3 separate regions of the Homo sapiens genome follow, and all the other regions are linked to region 3. Evidence: fine-mapped expression QTL. A gene starts in region 3. Each other region holds a variant in brackets. All regions are shown on one strand. Distances are from middle to middle. Region 1 overlaps PRPF6 (pre-mRNA processing factor 6). Region 2 overlaps PRPF6 (pre-mRNA processing factor 6). Region 3 holds the start of ZNF512B (zinc finger protein 512B).

Evidence for each region. PIP is the estimated chance that this variant, and not a neighbour inherited with it, causes the effect. A credible set is the group of variants that fine-mapping cannot tell apart.
Region 1: its variant is the best candidate, but not a certain one, in a credible set for the expression of ZNF512B in whole blood (TOPMed, PIP 0.67).
Region 2: its variant is the best candidate, but not a certain one, in a credible set for the expression of ZNF512B in whole blood (TOPMed, PIP 0.74).

The regions. Positions count from the first base shown.
Region 1 is chr20:63,992,446-63,999,807 of GRCh38, reverse strand. It overlaps PRPF6 (pre-mRNA processing factor 6), which reads right to left. Exons shown (of 21, transcript NM_012469.4): 4 at 6,323-6,401; 5 at 4,716-4,892; 6 at 4,326-4,481; 7 at 669-763; 8 at 49-205. Among named protein-coding and RNA genes, the nearest start is that of PRPF6, 15 kb to the right of the region's middle. RefSeq lists an enhancer at 1-157. The variant C/T (reference allele first, on the strand shown) is at 3,363.
Region 2 is chr20:64,023,347-64,030,708 of GRCh38, reverse strand. PRPF6 (pre-mRNA processing factor 6) reads right to left here. Exons shown (of 21, transcript NM_012469.4): 14 at 6,016-6,154; 15 at 4,651-4,770; 16 at 3,551-3,727; 17 at 2,973-3,106; 18 at 2,140-2,231; 19 at 1,218-1,332. Among named protein-coding and RNA genes, the nearest start is that of C20orf204, 9.2 kb to the left of the region's middle. The variant C/T (reference allele first, on the strand shown) is at 4,223.
Region 3 is chr20:63,966,863-63,973,505 of GRCh38, reverse strand. ZNF512B (zinc finger protein 512B) reads left to right here and starts at 3,576. Exons shown (of 17, transcript NM_020713.3): 1 at 3,576-3,692; 2 at 5,554-5,676; 3 at 5,983-6,125; 4 at 6,502-6,630. The coding sequence starts at 5,556. RefSeq lists a silencer at 3,389-3,468 and enhancers at 4,151-4,686, 4,687-5,224.

The DNA of each region.
Region 1 (7,362 bases), 26 kb before region 3:
CCACAATCACGCAGCCTCCCAGGAAACGCCTCCCAGGAAATACCTCACCTTGGGGCACATCTCCGTCCCCTTCATGATAAGGTTCCGAGCTACTTGTAGCTTCCCAGTGACTTCTTCCAGGCGGGCTGATGCAATCCAGGCTGGCGGGTGATGAGGGTTCGTCTCCCGAACAGACTTGAGGAGCAGTCGCGCCTTCTTGATATCACTATGAGAGGGAGAGTGCACACGGCATCAGGCCATGCTGTCAGGGGTGCACCCGAGACCTGGGATGAGGGCACCCACTTCACAGTCACAATGTAAGAACTATCAGTCCTGATGTCCTGAGTTACAAAAACCAACTCAAAACCTCAGTGCGCACTATTCCAAGCCTCTGTAGCCTCCCCGCAGACAAACGCTGAGAACCGAAGGTCCAGATGGGACATGTGGGACACAGCCAGCTGCTTTCCTGCCCAGCACAGGCAGGGACTTTGCAGTATCATATGTAACACATTGAGTGTACGCAATGAATGGATACAGATACATTTCAAATGGAAAAAACAAACTACTCCACTTTACATTTCTTAGAACCGCCATGTCCCATTTTGACAGCATACTGTCCATATAAAATCCAAAATACCCTAGGCAACTAGAGTCTCCATCCCAGCCCAGCGATTCTGCAAAGCACTCACTTGATGTCTCCTCCGTGTGTCGGGATCATGGAATTTAAATCCGTCAGGTAGCCTTTGGGGTCAACGACGGTCTGTCCACTCACGGAGTCAGACACCTGTGAGACAGGCCAAGCTAAGAGTCAGCTGGACATGACCAGGTGCAAAACAAAGTTCTCAGAGGGTCCCTGGTGCCCCTCCCACAACCCTGAGAGAGCAGTCAGAAGGAGAAGGAAAACAGCCTTCATTTCACTCAGACAACACCTTGTGATAATAACAAATTTCTTCTGTATGGAAAAAGATCTATTTTTTTTTTTTTTTTGAGATGGAGTCTCGCTCTGTCGCCCAGGCTGGAGTGCAGTTGTGCAATCTCGGCTCACTGCAAGCTCCACCTCCCAGGTTCACGCCATCCTCCTGCCTCAGCCTCCCGAGTGGCTGGGACTACAGGCGCCCGCCACCACACCTGGCTAATTTTTTTGTATTTTTAGTAGAGACGGGGTTTCACCGTGTTAGCCAGGATGGTCTCGATCTCCTGACCTCGTGATCCGCCCGCCTCGGCCTCCCAAAGTGCTGGGATTACAGGCGTGAGCCACCGCGTCTGTCCAAGATCTATATTTTTATTTATTTTTTTGAGACAGGGTCTCACTCTGTCACCCAAGCAGGAGTGCAGTGGCAATCATAGCTCAGTGCAGCCTCCAGCTCCTGGGCTCAAGGAATCCTCCTGCCTCAGCCTCCCAAGATTCTGTCTCTACAAAAAAAAGTGTAATTTTTGACCAGGCGTGGTGGCTCACGCCTGTAAACCCAGCACTTTGGGAGGCCAAGGTGGGTGGATCACAAGATCAGGAGTTCGAGACCAGCCTGGCCAGGATGGTGAAACCCCGTGTCTACTAAAAATACAAAAATTAGCCAGGCGTGGTGGCACATGCCTGTAGTCCCAGCTACTCAGGAGGCTGAGGCAGGAGAATCACATGAACCTGGGAAGCAGAGGCTGCAGTGAGCCGAGATCACGCCACTGCCCTCCAGCCTGGGTGACAGAGCAAGACCCCGTCTCAAAAAAAAATAAATAAAATTTTTATTAAAAAAGAAAGAATAGAAAGCAGGGTCTCTGACAAATATCTGTACACCCGTATTCACAGCAGCATTATTCACAATAGTCAAAAGGTGAAAGTGGTCCAAGTGTCCGTCAGCGAATAAACAGGTCAGCGAATGCGGTCTACATAGATGAGCGAATGCGGTCCACACACACCAAAGAGTCAAGTCTCATCCTGCCTTAAACTGAGAACATGCTGGCCGGGGCGCCGGGGCTCATGCCTGTAATCCCAGCACTTTGGGAGGCCGAGCCACGTGGATCACTGGAGGTCAGGAGTTCGAGACCAGCCTGGCCAACATGGTGAAATCCCATCTCTAACTAAAAATACAAAAAAATCACACTTCTAATCCCAGCATCCTGGGAGGCTGAGGCGAGTGGATCACGAGGTCAGGAGATCAAGACCATCCTGGCCAACATGATGAAACCCCGTCTCTACTAAAAATACAAAAATTAGCCAGACATGGTGGCACACGCCTATAGTTCCAGCTACTCGGGAGGCTGAGGCAGGAGAATCACCTGAACCCAGGAGGTGGAGGTTGCAGTGAGCCGAGATCACACCACTGCACTCCAGCTCGGGTGACGGTGCCAGGCTCCGTCTCAAAAAAAAAAAAAAAAATTAGCTGGGCTTGGTGGTGCACACCTGTAGTCCCAGCTACTTGGGAGGCTCAGGTGGGAGAATCATTTGAACCCGAGAGGCGGAGGCTGCAGTGAGCCAAGACCATGCCATTGAACTCCAGCCTGGGTGACAGAGAGAGACTCTGTCTCAAAAAAAAAAAAAAAAAAAAGAACATGCTGACGCATGCTGCACCATGAGCTAATTGAAATAAGCCTGTCACAGTAAGGTAAATACTGTATGATTCCAGTCATATAAGATCCAGAGAGTAGTGACATTTATAGAAACAGAGAGAACGGTGGATGCCAGGGGCTGGGGAGAAAGCGCACGGGGACTCAATGTTTAACAGGTACGGAGTTTCAATTTGGGAAGATGAAAACAGTTCTGGAGATGAATGGTGATGAGGTTGTATAACAACATGAACATAATTATGTCAGTGAAGGTATGTACAGTCAAGAATGATTAAAATGGTAAATTCTGTGTTACATATATTTTACCACAAAAAAATTACTGTGACAGTTTTATTTATTTATTGAGACAGTCTCACTCCGTAACCCAGGCTGGTGTGCAGAGGCGCGATCATAGCTCATGGCAGCCTCAAACTCCCTAGCTCAAGCAATCCTTCCACCTCAGCCTCTCGAACAGCTGGGACTACAGGCACCACCAGGCCCAGCTATTTCTTTTAGTTTTTGTAGAGACAGAGTCTCACCATCACCATGTTGCCCAGGCTGGTCTTGAACTCCTGACCTCAAGCAATCCTCCTACCTTGGTCTCTCAAAGTGCTAGGATTACAGGCATGAGTGCCTGGCCCAAAAAGTTTTACAATTTCTATGTAAACAAATTTCAGGCTGGGCATGGTAGTTCACACCTGTAATCCCAGCACTTTGTGAGGCCAGCGCGGACAGATCACTTGTGCCCAGGAGCTCCAGCCCAGGTTGGGCAACCTAGTGACACCCCATCTCAACAAAAAATACAAAAATTAGTTGGGTATGGTGGCACATGCCTGTAATCTCAG[C/T]TACTTGGCAGGCTGAGGTGGAAGGATCGCCTTAGCCCAGGGAGGTCAAGGCTGTATGTAGCCAGCCATGATTGTGCCACTTTTTGTTTTTGTTTTTGTTTTTTATTTTGAGACAGTCTCACTCTGTTGCCCAGGCCGGAGTGCACTGGTGCAATCTCGGCTCACTGCAACCTCCAACGCCCGGGTTCAAGCAATTCTCCTGCCTTAGCCTCCCAAGTAGCTGGGATTACAGGCGCCCGCCACCACACCTGGCCAATTTCTGTATTTTTAGTAGAGACGGGGTTTCACCATGTTGGCCAGGCCAAAAGTAGTATGTTCCTTCGTGGTATCTGATATGCATATCAGAAAGAGTTCTGTACTTCACTGGTGTCTAGAGCACCTAGTCTCCAGATCAAAGTACACGTTCCATGCAGGGCCACAAGACAATTTACTGAGAGGCAGGAAAAAAACACACTTTTTAAAAAATTATTATTTTATATTTTAAAAAAAGGCCAAGTGCAGTGGCTCACACCTGTAATCCCCGCATTTTGGGAGGCCAAGGCAGACAGATCACCTGAGGTCAGGAGTTCAAGACCAGCCTGGCCAACATGGTAAAACCCCGTCTCTACAAAAAATACAAAAATTAGCCGGGTGTGGTGGTGGGCACCTGTAATCCCAGCTACTCAGGAGGCTGAGGTAGGAGAATCACTTGAACCCAGGAGGTGGAGGTTGCAGTGAGCCAAGATCACACCATTGCACTCCAGCCTCTGAGTGACACAGCAAGACTCTGGGTCAAAATTTTAAAAATCTGCGGAATTATTCAGGCAAAAATCAAGCCAAAAAAAAAAAAAGGAGAAGGAGAAGAAGGAGGAGGAGGAGAAGGAGGAGAAGAAAAAGGAGAAGAAGAAGAAGGAGAAAAAGAAAACAAAACAAAATTAAACTGTCTAAACCTGTCCACAGGAAAATGCTGTGTGACAAACTCACCTGGCTCAGCCTCATGTCCATCAGAGTGTTCCTCGCTTGGCCAATCTTCCTCATGTCCAGCTCACCTGTGCCAGGTGTCATCAGTCCTGGCGTCATTCCACCTGGGTATGGAGTGTTTAGTCCACCTGGATAGGGTGTGTTAAGACCTCCAAATTGCTGGAGGGGAAGAGAGGAAAGGCAAGAATAAAACAACGGTTTGCACTGCATGCCCAAGAAATTTACTCTCTGAAATACTTCCCCAGTGGCCTGACATATGCACAGCTGTGCAGACAGACTCGGCCACAGCATAGCCATGACCTGCAGAAGCATTGAATCCAACACCACCCACCATTCCTGCCACTGATCTAACAGGACTAAATGGGCCACATGTGCCCTTTTTTGGAAGCTCACAGTTTGTCGGGGATCCACTGAGGTATGGTTCTCTCCGGTCTGTAAATGTTTGGCAAAGAAACTGTCAGGAACAGGGGTCAGCTTCTCATAGCGTGGGTTCCGCTGACGTTTATTTCTGGCATCGCCAACCTCGGGGATGCTCAGCCACTCTTCTTCTGTGACTTCTGCCAACTTCCTCTGGAAATATCCAGCCCCCAAAAACATTAATTCTCTGACAGAATTTCATGTGCCCAGGTAGGACCATGCCCTCTCTCACCCCTAGCCTCCAGATCACCAAGCTTTAGAAGGGATTTGGATGCAGCAACTGTTTTTTACTTTTGTTTTGAGATGGGTCTCATTCTGTTGCCCAGGCTGGATTCAGTGGCACAATCACAGCTCACTGCAGCCTCAACCTCCCAGGCTCAAGTGATCCTCCCACTTCAGCTTCTCAAGTTGCTGGGACCACAAGCGTGGGCCACCATGCCTGGCTAAGTTTTTATTTTTTGTAAAGACAGGTTCTCCCCAAGGCTGGTCTCAAACTCCTGGGCTCAAGTGATCCTCCCACCTCAGCCTCCCAAAGTGCTGAGATTACAGATGTGAGCCACTGTACCCAGCCCCAAAAATAGTTTTCTACTTCACTTAGAAAAATCAATTTAGGCCGGGCACGGTGGCTCATGCCTGTTAATCCCAGCACTTTGGGAGGCCAAAGCGGGCAGATCACCTGAGGTCGGGAGTTCGAGACCAGCCTGACCAACATGGAGAAACCCCATCTCTACTAAAAATACAAAATTAGCCGGGCATGGTGGCACATGCCTGTAATCCCAGCTACTAGGGAGGCTGAGGCAGGAGAATCGTTTGAACCTGGGAGGCGGAGGTTGCGGTGAGCTGAGATCGCGTCATTGCACTCCAGCCTGGGCAACAAGAGCCAAACTCCGTCTCAAAAAAAAAAAAAAAAGAAAAAGAAAAGAAAAATCAATTTATTGGATCTGTTCAACTTCACTAAAATGTAAATTATTCTCTCAAAGCCCAGGGGACACAGTTTAGAAAATCTTACGTATAAATGGGGCCAGACGTGGTGGCTCACGCCTGTAATCCCAGCCCTTTGGGAGGCTGAGGTGGGCAGATCACTAGAGTTCAGGAGTTTGAGACCAGCCTGGTACACATGGCGAAATCCTGTCTTTACTAAAAATACAAAAATTAGCTGGGTATGGTGGCAGGCACCTGTAATCCCAGCTACTTAGGAGGCTGAGGCACAAGAATTGCTTGAACCTAGGAGGTGAAGGTTGCAGTGAGCTGAGACCACGCCACTGCACTCCAGCCAGGGCAACAGAGCCAGACTGCCTCCAAAAAAAAAAAGAAAAAAGAAAAAAGAAAATCTTAGGTATAAATGGAGTCAAAATTACAAAGAAAATAAGTTCATTTGTCCTACCTTTTACAGTAGGGGAAGGGTTTTTTTTTACACACATATAATTAAACATACTGAAGCAAACACTTTCTTCTTCTAAGCAATGACCCCCTAAATTAAAAACGTAAAGTCTCATAAATTCCACGTAAGAGCAGTCTGAGTCTCTGCGGGTTAGGGTGAGAGCGTTAGAAACCGCACACCATTCACCGCTTCATCGGCTCACCTTGAGGTCTGAGAACTGCTGTTGGATTTTGGGGCGTTCCATACGATATTTCTCTATTTCTTCTTTCTCCCTTTGCTCCCTAGGAAATAAAACATGCACACATCAGAAACACTGCATGTCTGTTCTGAAGCAAATTTATTATCCATCTCAATTAAATCACCAAAAAGAACAATTCCATACTCTTAGTAGCTAAATCAAATATATATATATATATATACATATACACACACACACACACACACACACACACACACACACATTTTTTTTTTTGAGATGGAGTCTTGCTCTGTCACCCAGGCTAAAGTGCAGTGGCGCAATCTCAGCTCACTGCAACCTCCACCTCCTGGGTTTAAGTGATTTTCCTGCCTCAGCCTCCCAAGTAGCTGGGATTACAGGTGCTCGCCACCACTCCCAGCTAATTTTTGTGTTTTTAGTAGAGACGGGGTTTCACCATCCTGGCCAGGCTGTTCTCGAACTCCTGACCTTGTGATCTACCCACCTTGGCCTCCCAAAGTGCTGGGATTACAGGTGTGAGCCACCGCACCCAGCCCAAATCAAATATATTTTAAGGTAACTATGAATACATTCTTAGCTGGGCATGGTAGCACACACCTGTAATCACAGCTACTTGGGAGGCTGAGGCAGAATCATTTGAACCCAGGAGGCAGAGGGTGCAGTGAGCCAAGATCGCACCACTGCACTCCAGCCTGGGCAACACAGAGAGACTCTGCCTCTAAATAAATAAATATAAATACATTCGTAAGTCTACTAATTCAATTATCCACCAAATAAAAACATGTAGAAATTCATTAAAATAAAAAAAAAAGATCTTACTTTGATCTAAATACCTCCATTTGGACATGTGTATATTTACTGCTTGAAAATTCACAAAATCCCAAAGGTAGGACCATCCCATAAACACCTAAGAAGGCCAGGCGTGGTGGCTTACACCTGTAATCCCAACGCTTTGGGAGGCCGAGGTGGGCAGATCACCTGAGGTCAGGAGTTCAAGCCTGGCCAATGTGGTAAAACCCCATCTA
Region 2 (7,362 bases), 57 kb before region 3:
GGGAATAGCAAGGAGTGACTTATTTACTTTAGCAAAGCCTTTTATAAGGTTTTATGGCTGCACTATCAGAGTGTCACCCAGAAGTCACTCTGGGAGGTGAACGCACAGGGCAGGACCAAGGTAGCACCAGGCAGACACAAGCCTCCCTGTGGGGAGCCTCTCTCATCTGTCGGGGGCCTGCGGGCAGGGGAGAGGAGGTGCCCCTACAGGCAAGCCTGTGGGGGCGGCACCCAGACCTCTGGAGACCAAGCACCACTGCCACCCAGTGCTGGGGAGAAGGGATGGAGAGAATCAAAAGCCAGCACTAGGAAGGCTGTTGTCTCTGCATGACCCATGGCGGGGCAGGTGGAGGGGAAGCCGGACACAGGAGAGCTCCTGGGGCCAGACACGCCACCTCTGCCAGGTGAGCCCACGTCCTGAGCTGCAGCCTCAGGAACCCAGGGTTCTTCCAAGAACTCCCTTCACCCCACATGGTCACTTCCCAGCCTCCTGACCCACACTCAGGCCCAGCTCCTTCCCAGACTGTCATCCTCTTTCTAGAAGGAAACAGGGACCCTGGGGGTCGGGGATGGCCCTGAGCTCCCTGCTGTGCCCCACACCTGGCGGGTCTTTGCCCACATGTGCCTAGAGTCTGCATGCTCTGCCCCATGGCTACCCGCTGCTGCCTGCAAGGTTCCAGAGTCACGTCCCCAGTGAGTCTCTGACCCAGCGGCCAGCGCACCAGTGTGAATCACACGCGTCCCCAGTGAGTCTCTGACCCGGCGGCCAGCACACCAGTGTGAATCACATGTGTCCCCAGTGAGTCTCTGACCCGGCGGCCAGCGCACCAGTGTGAATCACATGCGTCCCCAGTGAGTCTCTGACCCGGCGACCAGAGCACCAGTGTGAATCACATGCGTCCCCGGTGAGTCTCTGACCTGGCGGCCAGCGCACCAGTGTGAATCACACGCGTCCCCAGTGAGTCTGTGACCCGGCGGCCAGCGCACCAGTGTGAATCACATGCGTCCCCAGTGAGTCTCTGACCACGGCACCCTCAGGTGTGTCTGCCAGGAGAGGCGCCTGCCCCAGACCACAGCAGGAGCGACGGCAGCCGAGGATCGGGGAAGCCCACCCTGCTGCCGGGCATCTTTACAATGACCAGGAAGAGGCAGACAGACTCTGGAAAAAGAGCCCATTAGGACCCCGAGGTTCAGCAATCCTGTGGGGGCCCCACTCACTTGGCCACGGCCAGGAGCACATGGGGGTCATGCTCACACTTCTTCAGGGCATCCACGCTCTTGGTCCTCCTCTGGGGCCTTGCCTCGAGGAAGATGGCCTCAGACCACAGGATACCTATAATTCAGAAACAAAGAACAAAGATTTGCACTCCAGCCTCTGGTTCCGGAAAGGTGCCCAGCCTACAGATTCTAACCCGGGACGTCCTCAGACCACGACAGGGGCCTCCCACACACGGCTCGCAGAACTTGTGCAAGGAGAACCACAAAGGATGAGCACTCTGGCCCACCCAAAACCATGGCAGCCCTGAGGGCACAGACTGGACACCCTGCAGAGTCTCACTCTGTCATTCAGGGTGGAGTGCAATGGCGCAATCTCAGCTCACTGCAACCTCCCACTCCCGGGCTCAAGCAATTCTCCTGCCTCAGCCTCCCGAGTAGCTGGGATTACAGGCGCCCGCCACCATGCCCAGCTCATTTTTGTATTTTAGTAGAGACGGGGTTTCACCATGTTGGCCAGGCTGGTCTCAAGCAATGGACTCCTGGACTCAAGCAATCCTCCCGCCTCAGTCTCTCAAAGTGCTGAGATTACAGGCATGAGCCACCACACCTGGCCAATTTCTTTTAAATTTTAAAAGAAAAAGAAATGATAACACTTCAGAAATGAAATCAAATTCTCCCATTTTGAGGCCAAGAATTTCATTAAGTTGTCTTAACGGCCGAGTATAGCTGAAACTTTTGACTGAAATGATTCACACAAACTACACATTTTAATAAAGTCCGTCTGAAGCCTGAGCCCCCACTCCCTCAGGAAGTGCCAGCCCTGCGGAGTCTGGGAAGCCAGGAAGCACCCCCTTACCGGAGTCAAGGCACCCCCTTACCGGAGTCAGGGCACCCCCTTACCGGAGTCGGGGCACCCCCTTACCGGAGTTGGGGCACTCCTGCAGCGCCTTGGCCATGAGTGTATTTGCGATGTTCTTCAGCCCCGCACGGTACTCCAGCCGCACGGACTCCAACCTGAGGAGACAGGCCCCCGGAGGTCCCACAGCCGTCTACCAACAGCACATATTCTGGTAGCTTCTGGGAAGCCTTGTCTGAAAGGGCTCTCCACCCAGTCACAGCAGCAAAAACTCCATTCCCTCCACAGCAGAGCTCATCCACCACAGAAACAAGGCGCTGGGGCCCACATCCCTGCCAGCCCCACTGGCAACCGCCCCAAGGCAAGACCTCAGATCCTGACGCTGTCCAGATGCAGGTGAAGGCATCCAGAACAAACAAGACCAGACTGGGAGAGCCAGGGCCGCACAAGGCACCCAGAAGCTGCCTGTCTGCGGCAGTGCCTGCACAGTGCTCCAGCCCCGTCACCCTGAGCTGGACGCAGCACCTCCATGAACAGAGCCTGCACCTAGCAGGCTCCTGTCCACCTCCAGGGCTCTCCACGCCACCTCCTCTGTGGAGCTGGCTCTCCGGGGTCCATCCTTCCCTCGTCCCAGCCATCATTAACCCCTCCCTCTCCCAGGCGCCCTCCATCAGAACACAAATTAAACTGCATCAAACCATCTACAGGCCTGTCACAGTACCTAGGCCGAACTCTCCTAAGGCAGGGACCGTGATTTTTCATGGCCAGCACCTACCGCCCCCCAAGCCCCTGAGCCTGGAAGCACTGCACGAGTGACTCCACACAAGCAGCTGGGTGACGGCGGCCCACCTGATGGGGAAGCTGTGCCCAGAGGCCAGGCTGCCCCCTCCAGGACTCACCACAGCCCAGGGTTCTTTGGGTTCTTCAGACGAGACTTTTCCAAAATGGCCCGTGCTCGAGTAAGCTGCCCAATCTTCTCCTCCAGCCGAGAGAGCAAAAGCCACAGGGGTGTGGAGTGGGGACACTTCTTCAACTGCAACCAACAAGTAAGAGAGCAGCTCAGGTGGTGTCTATGAAGAACTGGGACACAGCCATGCCCAGCTTCTCATCTGCAGTGGGTGACCGAGTCCCTCAGGGCTGCCATGTCCATGGAAAAACACCCCTCACACTCTGCATTTGTGGGTGTACAGGTGTGCGGTGGTGCTGTGGACCTGTGCACACAGGTCTGTACGTACCAGCCTTTACTGCAGGTGTGCCACACTCTGCACTTCTGAGCAGTGTGTGCAGCTTCATATAAGGAAAAGCACAGAACTCAGCGAGGGGACCAGGGTTTGGGTCCTGAGTCTGCAGCTCCATCAGCTGTAACCCCCAGCCCTCCACATCTCCTCAGAGGCGAAGGGCAATGACCCTGCACCAGGGGGCTCAGTTTTGTGAATGCCGGGTCAGCTGCAGCCCCAGGGTGCAGGCAGAGACGTACCCCCTGGTTATAGGCTTCCCGCGCCTTCTCCATCATCTCCTTCTGCTCCTCGATCTGCCCCTTCATCATCCACAGCTTGGGGAAGTCCTCATAGTGCCGCAGGGCCTCCTCGCACAGATCTTGGGCTGCCCTGATGTTGTCTTGCACCCACTCCAGCTTCACAGACTTCATGAACACCTGTGGGGCAGACATGCACTGTCACGCAGGGCATCAGCTCCAGGGTACGTGCTTCATGGTACACTCATCCTCAACACTGTTACCTGCAGTACTGTGTGTACTTTTGTAAGCTTTTCATAGCCTGTTTGTGTACACAAAAGGTGGGGATAAATATATGTTTTTGTTTTGTTTTGTTTTTTTTTGAGATAGAGTCTCGCTCTGTCACCCAGGCTGGAGTGCAGTGGCACGATCTCGGCTCACTGCAAGCTCCACCTGCTGGGTTCACACCATTCTCCTGCCTCAGCCTCCCAAGTAGCTGGAACTACAGGTGCAAGCCACCACACCCAGCTAATTTTGTATTTTTAGCAGAGTTGGTCAGGCTGGTGTCGAACTCCTGATCTCACAATCTACCTGCCTTGGCCTCCCAAAGTGCTGGGATTACAGGCGTGAGCCACCACACCCGGCCGTATGAACATGTTTGTTGTTGTTGTTGTTGCTGAGACAGTTTCCCTCTTG[C/T]TGCCCAGGCTGGAGTGCAGTGGCGCGATCTCAGCTCACCGCAACCTCCACCCCCGGGGTTCAAGCGATTCTCCTGCCTCAGCCTCCCGAGCAGCTGGGATTACAGGCACGCACCACCACGCCCGGCTAATTTTGTATTTTTAGTAGAGACGGGGTTTCTCCATGTTGGTCAGGCTGGTCTCAAACTCCCACCCTCAGGTGATCTGTCCGCCTTGGCCTCCCAAAGTGCTGAGATTACAGGCGTGAGCCACCGCGCCCGGCCACCACGCCCGGCCACATGAATGTTTTAGTCACATCACAAAGATGAGTGTGCTGTGGTCTCGTTTGCCTGCCGTCATCTCACTCCCATCACCACCCAAGCCAGGCGTGGGGCCCGCATGTGCACACCATGCACCCCAGACGGCCCAGCCCTGCCTGCCACTGCGTACCCGGGCGGTGGGGGCACTGCTCCGCGCCTTGGCCAGCAGCCTCCGGGCCCGCTCGTACTCATCATTCTCGGACTCCAGCTTCACGGCTGCCAGCCAGATCTCCTCACTGTTGGGGTTGGCCTGAAGGGCAAGTACAGCAGCGTCAAGAGGGGTCAGAACACAGGGACCAGCGCCTGATCACACTTAATCAAAAGCAGGCAGGCAGGAACTGAGCCAGGCCTTGCTCTGCTACAGGATTAGTCTGGTCCAAGCCCTTCCCAGGGAGGAGATGACAGAGCCGACTCCAGTGCAAGAATCCAGACTCACCTGGAAACACACAGGCCCATGTTCACTCTGGTACAGTGAGGACAGTGAAGAGGCTGCTAAAGCACTCGAGCAATAACGGGGGCAGGTGCAGGGCCATCTTACCCAGGATCCACCCACGCCCTCTCAAAGCCCCTGAATGGGGCACTCGCATCCTATACTGGTAGACTCATCACACGCAACCTCGCTCTTTCCCCTGAGCTTGATGAAGGGAAGCCAGCTGTCCTGTCCTCATGAGCCCACATGGGCAGGAGAGAGGACTCCCAGGGTGCCACTGACATGTGGAGAAGGCGTCCACAAGCCACGGAAGCTCACACAGCCCAGAGCCCAGTGGACACGCAGGCTCTGCCCTCAAAGCCTCCCCAGCCCGGTGCCCAGGGCTGTCTGAATGCGTCCCAATCAGCACAGCCGCCCAAGAGAGCGGGTGGAAGGAAGCCACGTGACAGGCAGAGAGCGGGCAGGTGGAGGGGACGCTGCAGTTACTCACAGGAGTGATGCCATCTCAAACAGGCAGCTGAGAGCGAAAGGTTAAACCCAGGCCAGTCCCCTCTCATGGTATTTGCTCAAAGAAGGGCACACTCTATGATATTAGCCTGAGCTACAGTAACAGACTTTTATATAGCATTCTATAGCTTATTAAAAAGTATGTTATAAACTATTAGGATGTTATATGTGAAAATAAAGACAAGGTACTTAAAAAAAACACACACCCCCCTCATGACAACCAGGCACCCTCAGGCCTGGCTCAGTGAGGCGGTCTGAATACATCCATTCACATAAGGGCGCCCTCAGCCTGTGTGACCCCGTGTTCCATGTTCTGAAACATTTACCCGTGGTCACACTGAGTGGGGGGACCGAGAGGTAAGTATCTGCCAGGTGGGCTGCTTTCCTGCTCTCGGGCCCCTTCACGGCCCCTGCTCCTGTGGAGCAGCCCCTGGACTCCAGTGCACCCCAACAACAGCACGTGCCACATTGTATGTGGGAGATTTTCAGGCCCCAGTCAGCACCCAGGTCAGCTCCTGTGTGCACAGGCCCCTCACCACACAGGCAACCCTCACCCACCTGGAAGGCCAGGGCCAGGATGCTCCTTGCTGCAGGCACATCCCCTGCCAGCCACTTGGACTTGGCGCCCATGAGCCACAGCACCTCTGCTTTGGGGCAGTGGGCCACAGCCCTCTGCAGGAGTGCTTCCAGGGACTCCCTGCAAGATAAGAGGCCACGGTCACCAGAGGCAGGGCCATAAACCAGAACACACATCACACTCAGCCATGGCGTGGGCACGCCAGAAAGACAGTTACTGCTCCAAAGTTCGATGCTATAAATGATTGACCAGATTTTACAATGGGGAGAGTGTGGGGAAATCTTTCCTCTCCATAAAGGTTCTAAAATCAACTACTGAAGAGGGTTCTACAAAGGAATGCATTGTTTAAATAGCAGAGCTGGAGAGACGAACTTCACAAGAGAACCTTTTACAGCCGTGTGTCCTGGAAGCAGCAATAACCTCAGTCTGTGACAGGGGAGGCCTTTTCATCTTGAACCACAGAGCACAAGCGCACCCCGGACCCACTGATAAAGATTATGATCCCAGGTTCACTCTCCCGGCATCCAAAAGAATTATCTTATAGGAAGAAAGTGATTTCAGGTCACTATTGAGCAAAACTGCCAGCCGTGGGCATCAGGTCTGATGCTCCTGGACTCTCATGTGGCCCACCACCCTCAGTCACATCAATGACCCCTTTGGGCCTCAGTGAGTGCGACAGCAAGACAAAGTGACCACACACAATCACACTGTGTGGAGCAAGGGCCAGCAAAGCAACCGTGCTCTCCAGAGGACCAGCTCCCCCAGCACTACTGCCTCTCCTCATCCCTGCAAGCATGCACTCGGGAGAAGGCAGGGAAGTCGGAGGGCACTGCCCACTGTGCCCAGGGGTCAAGGGCAGCAGTTCATATTCAGGTCACGGGCCGAGAGACCTCAGCCTACACCTGGCACCGCCCTGTTCTTCACTCAGACTGCCCCAGGTGACCTTCTACAGAGGGGCACCATGGCAGCCATTTCAAAACGTCCCCAAAGGAGATCACTCCCAAACACAGACCAGCTGGTGGGCATGGGGAGGGGGCCAGGTCTTCAGGAGGACACATGGAAAGACACCCTGAAGAGGCTGAGATTAAATCACACCAGAAAAGCAAAGAGACAATGGCTCAACATTCTCAGCTGTAGCCCCAGTGAAACCAGCAGGGCCTGTCCTCACCTGGTACAGGGAGCATCACCCGAGGACCTGGGAGAGGACGGACAGAGGGTGCGTGGGGACACGAGCCCAATGCCCTTGAGAGCTATCCATTTAAAACAATAAACTGCAACGCCAAATTTAATCAGCATTTACAGCCAATAAAGCGGACCTGAAAGATGTT
Region 3 (6,643 bases):
GCAATCCCAGCACTGTGGGAGACCAAGGCAGGAGTGTCGCTGAAGGCCAGGAGTTCAAGACCAGCCTGTGTGACATAGCAAGACCCCATCTCTACAAAAAACTTTTGAAACTAGCCAGGCATGGTGGCGCATACCCGTAGTCCCAGCTACTTGGGAGGCTGAGGCAGGAAGATTCCTTGAGCCCAGGAGTTCAAGGCACAGTGAGCTCTAACCACACAACTGCACTCCAGCCTGGGCAACAGAGCAAGACCCTGTCTCAAACACAGATCACAGCACACACACACACACACACACACACCACACACACACAGCAATCAGACACATAAGAGCATAAACCACACACAGAGACTCAATGACACTGACACCAGCAAACACCAACACACACAAACACATGCATGTAGTTGGCCAGGCACACAGACACAAAGGTATGTAACAGCATGCCCCCATACAAAGATGTCATTACACAAATACACAAATACTAGCATGCAGACACACAACGACCTCCTAACACATAGAAACACATGGGACACGGCACATCCCCGGTGCACACAAACACACTGTATTCCACGACACCCTGGCATGTAGATGCTCACAGAAAACAGCCGTCCCTCACCAGCACCCTGACACTGAGACATGCCGCAGCCTGGACACATGGATACTGAAATCCAGACACATCGTCCCCAGGTACCCTGAGGTCTAGTCGCCCAGATGCTAAAATACAGACAGGCATTGGTCTCACCTAGCATGGGACACTGTCATATCCTGACACGGCAATGTCCAAACAGGTCGCATGTATGGACACCCAGACTTACACAGGGAGAGCTGACGGCCTTGGCTGCACCTAAGGGGACACACACTGACCCCTCAGGAAATCCTGCTGGTCCCGTCCCCAGGGTGGGAAAGGTCAACAAGGGAAGGACGTGATGACGCTAGCCTCACAGGGAATGCCCTCCCCTTCCTCCTCGGGTCACACAGGCTGGTGTGCACTGGCCTCTCTGACTCAGATTCCCGAAGGAAGGATTGACTGACTGCCTCTTCTATAAGAGCCAACCTCCAATCTCCATGTGAGTGCTCTGCACCAGCCTTGAGTGAAGCAGATCCCAGGCCCCTTTGAGGAAAGGCAAAAATCTTACTGCCCAACCCCCTAGCAGTGCCTCTGAGCTTGCTCCACGGGGTACAGGGAAAGGGGCCGACTGGGCCGGAAGGGCCCCAGCGAAGGAGGCACACCTGGTAGTTCCATTTCCTGACTAGCAACTTCCAGCCCACATCAATTTTAAGGAGTCCAGAATATTTGTAGTATGCAAAAAGGGGCATTACGAAACTTTTAAAAGTCTGTTTTAATTATAAAAGTAATATATGCACATGGTTTTAAAAAAAATGCTGGCTGGGTGCGGTGGCGCATGCCTGTAATTCCAGCACTTTGGGAGGCCGAGGTGGGTGGATCACGAGGTCAGGAGTTCGAGACCAGCCTGGCCAGCTTGGTAAAACCCCGTCTCTACTAAAAATACAAAAAATCAGCTGGGTATGGTGGCACGTGCCTGTAATCCCAGCTACTCAGGGGGCTGAGGCAGAATTGCTTGAACCCAGGAGGCGGAGGTTGCAGTGAGCAGAGATGGCGCCACTGCAGTCCAGCCTGGGCAACAGAGAGAGACTCCATCTCAAAAAAAAAAAAAAAAAAATGCTCTATGGGCACAAGATGAAAACCCAGAGTCTCCTTGACTCTTCCCTCCTGAGGCCTGAGGCCTTCCCTGGGAGATGGGTGCTGTGAACAGGTAAGAATGGCCCTCCTAAGGCCAGGGGCAGTGGCTCACGCCTGTAATCCCAGCACTTTGGGAGGCCGAGGTGGGCGGATCACGAGGTCAGGAGATTGAGACCATCCTGGCTAACAGGGTGAAACTCCGTCTCTACTAAAAATACAAAAAAATTAGCCGGGCGTGGTGGTGGGCGCCTGTAGTTCCAGCTACTTGGTTGGCTGAGGCAGGAGAATGGCATGAACCCAGGAGGCGGAGCTTGCAGTGAGCCGAGATCGCACCACTGCACTCCAGCCTGGGCTACAGAGCCAGACTCTGTCTCAAAAAAAAAAAAAAAAAAAAATGCCCTCCTAGCCAGAGGCGGTGGGTCACACCTGTAATGCCCACACTGTGGGAGGCTGAGGCAGGAAGATGGCTTAAGCCCAGGAGTTCAAGACCAGCCTAGTCAACACAGAAAGACCTCGTCTCTATGAATACTTTAAAACTTAGCCAGGTGGGGTGGCACACACCTGTAGTTCCAGCTACTTGGGAGGCCGAGGTGGGAGGATTGCTTGAGCCCAGGTGGTAGAGGCTGCAGTGAGCCAAGATCACACCACTGCATTCCAGCCTGAATGACAGAGCGAGACCCTATCTCAAGAATAAAAAAAGAACGGAGAAGGAGAAAGGAGAGGAGGGGAAGGGAGGGGAGGAGAAGGGAGGGGAGGGGAGAAAAAGAAAGAGAGAGAAAGGAAGGAAGGAAGGAGAAAGGGAGGGAGGGAAGAGAAGGAAGGGAAGGAAGGAGAAAAGGAAGGGAGGAAGGGAAGGGAAGGAAGGAAGAAGGAAGGAAAGGAAGGAAGAAGGGAGGGAGGAAGGTAAGGGAAGGAAGAGAAGGAAGGGAGGAAGGGAGGGAGGGAAGAGAAGAGAAGGAAGGAAAGAGAAAAGGAAGGAAGGAAGAAGGAAGGAAAGGAAGGAAGAAGGGAGGGAGGGAGGGAAGGGAAGGAAGAGAAGGGAGGGAAGGAAGAAGGAAGGAAGGAAGGAGAGAAGGAAGTAAGAGAGGGAAGGAAGGAAGGCAGGCAGGCAGGCAGGCAGGCTCTCCTGGGGGAGATTCTTGTGGGTCCTGTGCCAGTCCCGTGTGGTGCCTCCTACCAGTCCTCTTTAGGAGAGCCAACCTTTCTCTGTCTCATTCATTCCCAAGTCCTGTGCTGTCAGTGCCCCGCCACCTCCAGACCACTCAGCCCACACCGGACCCCAGTGCCCCCTGCCTGCAGAAGCCCAAGCTGTGGGGCAGAGAAGGCCCTGGCACTGGTTCAGAACCACTGCCCCCAGAGCTGGGAAAGGGTGACCCAATGGTCAGTGACCCCAGTAAAACCCCATGGCCTTAAGCCGCCAGGCACCTCCGGGGGTCAGTCGCAAAAGTGGTCTCAGGGCCAGTTGGAAGAAGGCTGAATCCTGCGCTGCCGGTGCACGGCCCCCAGGGCCAGAGGTCAGGGTCCCGAGCCCAGAGACCACACTCGCCGCGCGGGCCAGGATGCGGCGGAATCAGGTCGCCTCAATCCGTGCGCGCCGGACTCCGGGCAGTGCCTAGCGCCCCTATCGGGCCTCAGTTTACCCCACTGTCCAAAAAACGTCCCCCGCCCCAGGACGGCAGAACCGGCTACTCTGGACTGCGGGCCCGGCCGACGGGGGCGGAACCGCGGAGCGGGGGAACCACAGGCCAGCGCCGGGCCCCCGCCCCCGCCCCCGCCCCCTCCCCGCCCCCTCCCCGTCGCGGAGCGGCCGCGGGAATAACGCGAGAGTTCGCCCCCTCCCCCCCGCAGTAAAACTGTCAAAGGTGGGAGGGGCGGGAGCGCGCATGTGCGCAGCGCGGCGCGCAGCCTGCGCCGCCCGGACCCAGCGCCCCGCGCCCCGCGCCCCCCGCCCCGGCCCGGCCCGGCCCGGCCGCAGCCCCGCTGGGCGCCGCAGGTAAGCGCCCGGCCGCGCCCCGGACCCATTCTGGCCGCAGCCCCGGCGCCCACCGCGCCCCGGATCTCGACCCTGCGCGCAGGCCAAGGAGGGGGCCGGGCCCGGAGCCCCCCCGCCCCCCGCCGCGCCCGAGCCCCCGCGCCCCGCGCCGGCGCCGTCTTCCTGCCTCCTCCTTCTCCAGAAAAAGTCGCCATTTTGGTTCACTGCCTTCGCCCCCCCACCCCGCGCCCGCGATCGGCCCTGCCCGGCCAGGCCGAGGCCCGCGCCCCGCGCCCGCTCCCGGCCCCAGGTGACAGGTGGGTGGCGAGGCTGGCCCCAGGTGCGCGTCCCTGGCCGCGCTCACCCGCGCGCCAGGCCTGGGCCGGGGTCCCGGGCCGAACGGCCTACGCGGCGGACCCGCTGCTGGCGTCTCCTGCGCGCAGCGCGGCGGAGCCCCCTCTCCCCGCGAGGGCTCTGTGTCCCCGCTGGGCTCGGGAGGGCCGAAGCCCCTTCTCATCCGGGGCGCCAGTCGCGTCTCTGCCTCCCAGGCTGGCCCTGGCCTCAGGCCCCACTATTCTGAATTCTTCTCCCAGGCTTCAGAAAAATTGGAAGTGGGGCCTCAGCAGGCACCTGCACCCCAGGCCACCGGGGTCATCAGGTGCTGGGATGACTCATGCCGGCCCTGTCTCCTTTCAAAAGTTGCAAAGTGAGGACTTCCAGAGAACTTTGTCCCCGGACACTGGCCTCCCCCTTGGCAATGGGCAGTGACTGTCCTGACCTCTGACCTCAGCTCTCTGGCCCTCCTGGACACAGCAGCCCCTTCCCATCCCCTCGGATCCAAGTTAATTAGAAGCTATCAGGAGGGGGCCACCTGCCCACTCAACCCTCACCCTGCTTCCTGTCCCACCCCCTTCCGTGGCTTTTCCACAGGGCTGGGCCCAGAGTCTCCTCTGCTCCCCAGCTCTCAGGATGGGGTTCCCAGCAGCACAGGCCCTCGGGGGCCCCAGCCTTGGGCAGCAGGGCGTTCTCTCTGGCCAGCATCCTGGGCCTTCACTGCTGGTGCTTCCACGACTTGTTTGGCTGAAGTGGTAGTGGTGGGTCTGTAGGCAGAGGACTGAGAGGATCCAGAGAGAGGTGGGGGGCGGGTCAGCCTGCCAAGCCTGGAGACAAGTCTGCGAAGAGCATCAGGTAGGATAGTTCAGCCGGCACAGGGACGGGAGCTTGGTGCAGTGCCAGATTGGGCCAGGGGTCCTCAGTGCCCACCTTGGCTGTTTTCCATCTGTGTCTGGAGAGAAGATTCCAAGGGTACCTGCCTGGGTAGGCTGGCATTGCATCAAGTCAGCATGGGAAGGTATGAGGGCCCCAGTGAGAAGCTGTGCCCCCACTGCTGGGCCTGGGCAGCTTGTGAGCCAGCAGCCATCATCAGAGACATAATTGGCCCCTGGAGGAATGTTGCCAGCCTCCTTCCTCCTGCGCAAGGCACCTCTCCCAGGGGCACACCCCCTCCCAGCACTGGGTAGGAGTGCATCACCTTCGGCATCATCTTCGCAGCTGTGGGGCTACGCACACTGTGGAGCTGCGTACACTGTAGAGCTGCGTGTTGGGAAGGGGGTCTGGAAGTTGGTGAGGGTCTCAGGACAGGACTAGATCCTATCAAACTGATGATGACTCCTGGGTTATCTGGGGAGACCTTGGCTGGCAGCCCCTCCCCTAAGTCAGAAGCCCCCATCACTTGCTTTTCCCACGTGAACAAAACCACAGGAAGGCAGGCCCCTCTTCCCTGACCAGAGAGGACCTGCCAAGGGCAGGGCTCCAGGGCAGCCTCACCACGTGTTCCAAGTGGGGCCCGTCAGGCTTCACAGATTGTCTACTTGCTCTGCAGAGATGACGGATCCTTTCTGCGTTGGAGGCCGTCGGCTCCCGGGGTCCAGCAAGAGTGGTCCCGGGAAGGATGGCAGCCGAAAGGAGGTCCGACTTCCAATGCTGCATGACCCACCGAAGATGGGTAAGAGGAGTCAGGGCCAGAGTCAATTCCAGATGGTTCTGGGCAGCAAGTGGTAGGAGTGGACCATTGCCCTGGGCGTCCTGTCTCCAGGTACCCAGCTAGGCCCCTAGAGTTCCCAAGGACCTTACCAGGGTAGGGGTTGCCTTGGACATAGCCCAGGGTCCTGGGTTCTTGTCCTCAGCTGGCCGCAGCCCCTGCCCCCGGTGCCCTCGTGTTGGGACAGCGGTGCTCACTGTGGGCCTGTGCAGCCGCCGGTGGTAGGCGGTGCTACACAGCTTCCGAGCCTTGCTGTGTTGTGTGCTGCAGGGATGCCGGTGGTCCGTGGTGGACAGACAGTGCCCGGCCAGGCCCCTCTCTGCTTTGACCCGGGAAGTCCAGCCAGTGACAAGACAGAAGGGAAGAAAAAGGGGCGGCCAAAAGCCGAGAACCAGGCCCTCCGAGACATTCCTGTGAGCTCCCTCAGGGCCATGGTGGGGCTCATGCTGGGGTCTCCCTATCCAGCCACTGCCCTGCCCTGATTTGTCCTCTGCACATCTGGTACCAACTCTATGCCTCAAGATGTGGGCACTGGCCTGGCAGACTTCACGTGGCCTGGCTTTGTATCTGATGTGCCGGGAGATTCGGGGGATCGCGTTGGTGGGCTCCTAGAACGGGTCTTGTGCATGGCCCCTGCCAGGTGGCTTGAATTCCCACTGCAGTCCCGAGGTTGAGGGGCTCATGTGGTGTGTGTGCCCTGCAGGCCCGGGGGGGCTCTGAGTCTGGGGCTCGGGCTGGCAGTGGCCCAGGTGGCTGCGGGTCAGCAGCACCACCTTTCCCCACGCCTAGCTCTCCCTGATGAACGACTGGAAGGATGAGTTCAAGGCACACTCGAGGGTGAAGTGTCCAAACTCAGGGTGCTGGCTGGAGTTCCCCAGCATCTACGGGCTCAAGTACCATTACCAGCGGTGCCAAGGGGTAAGGGACTGTG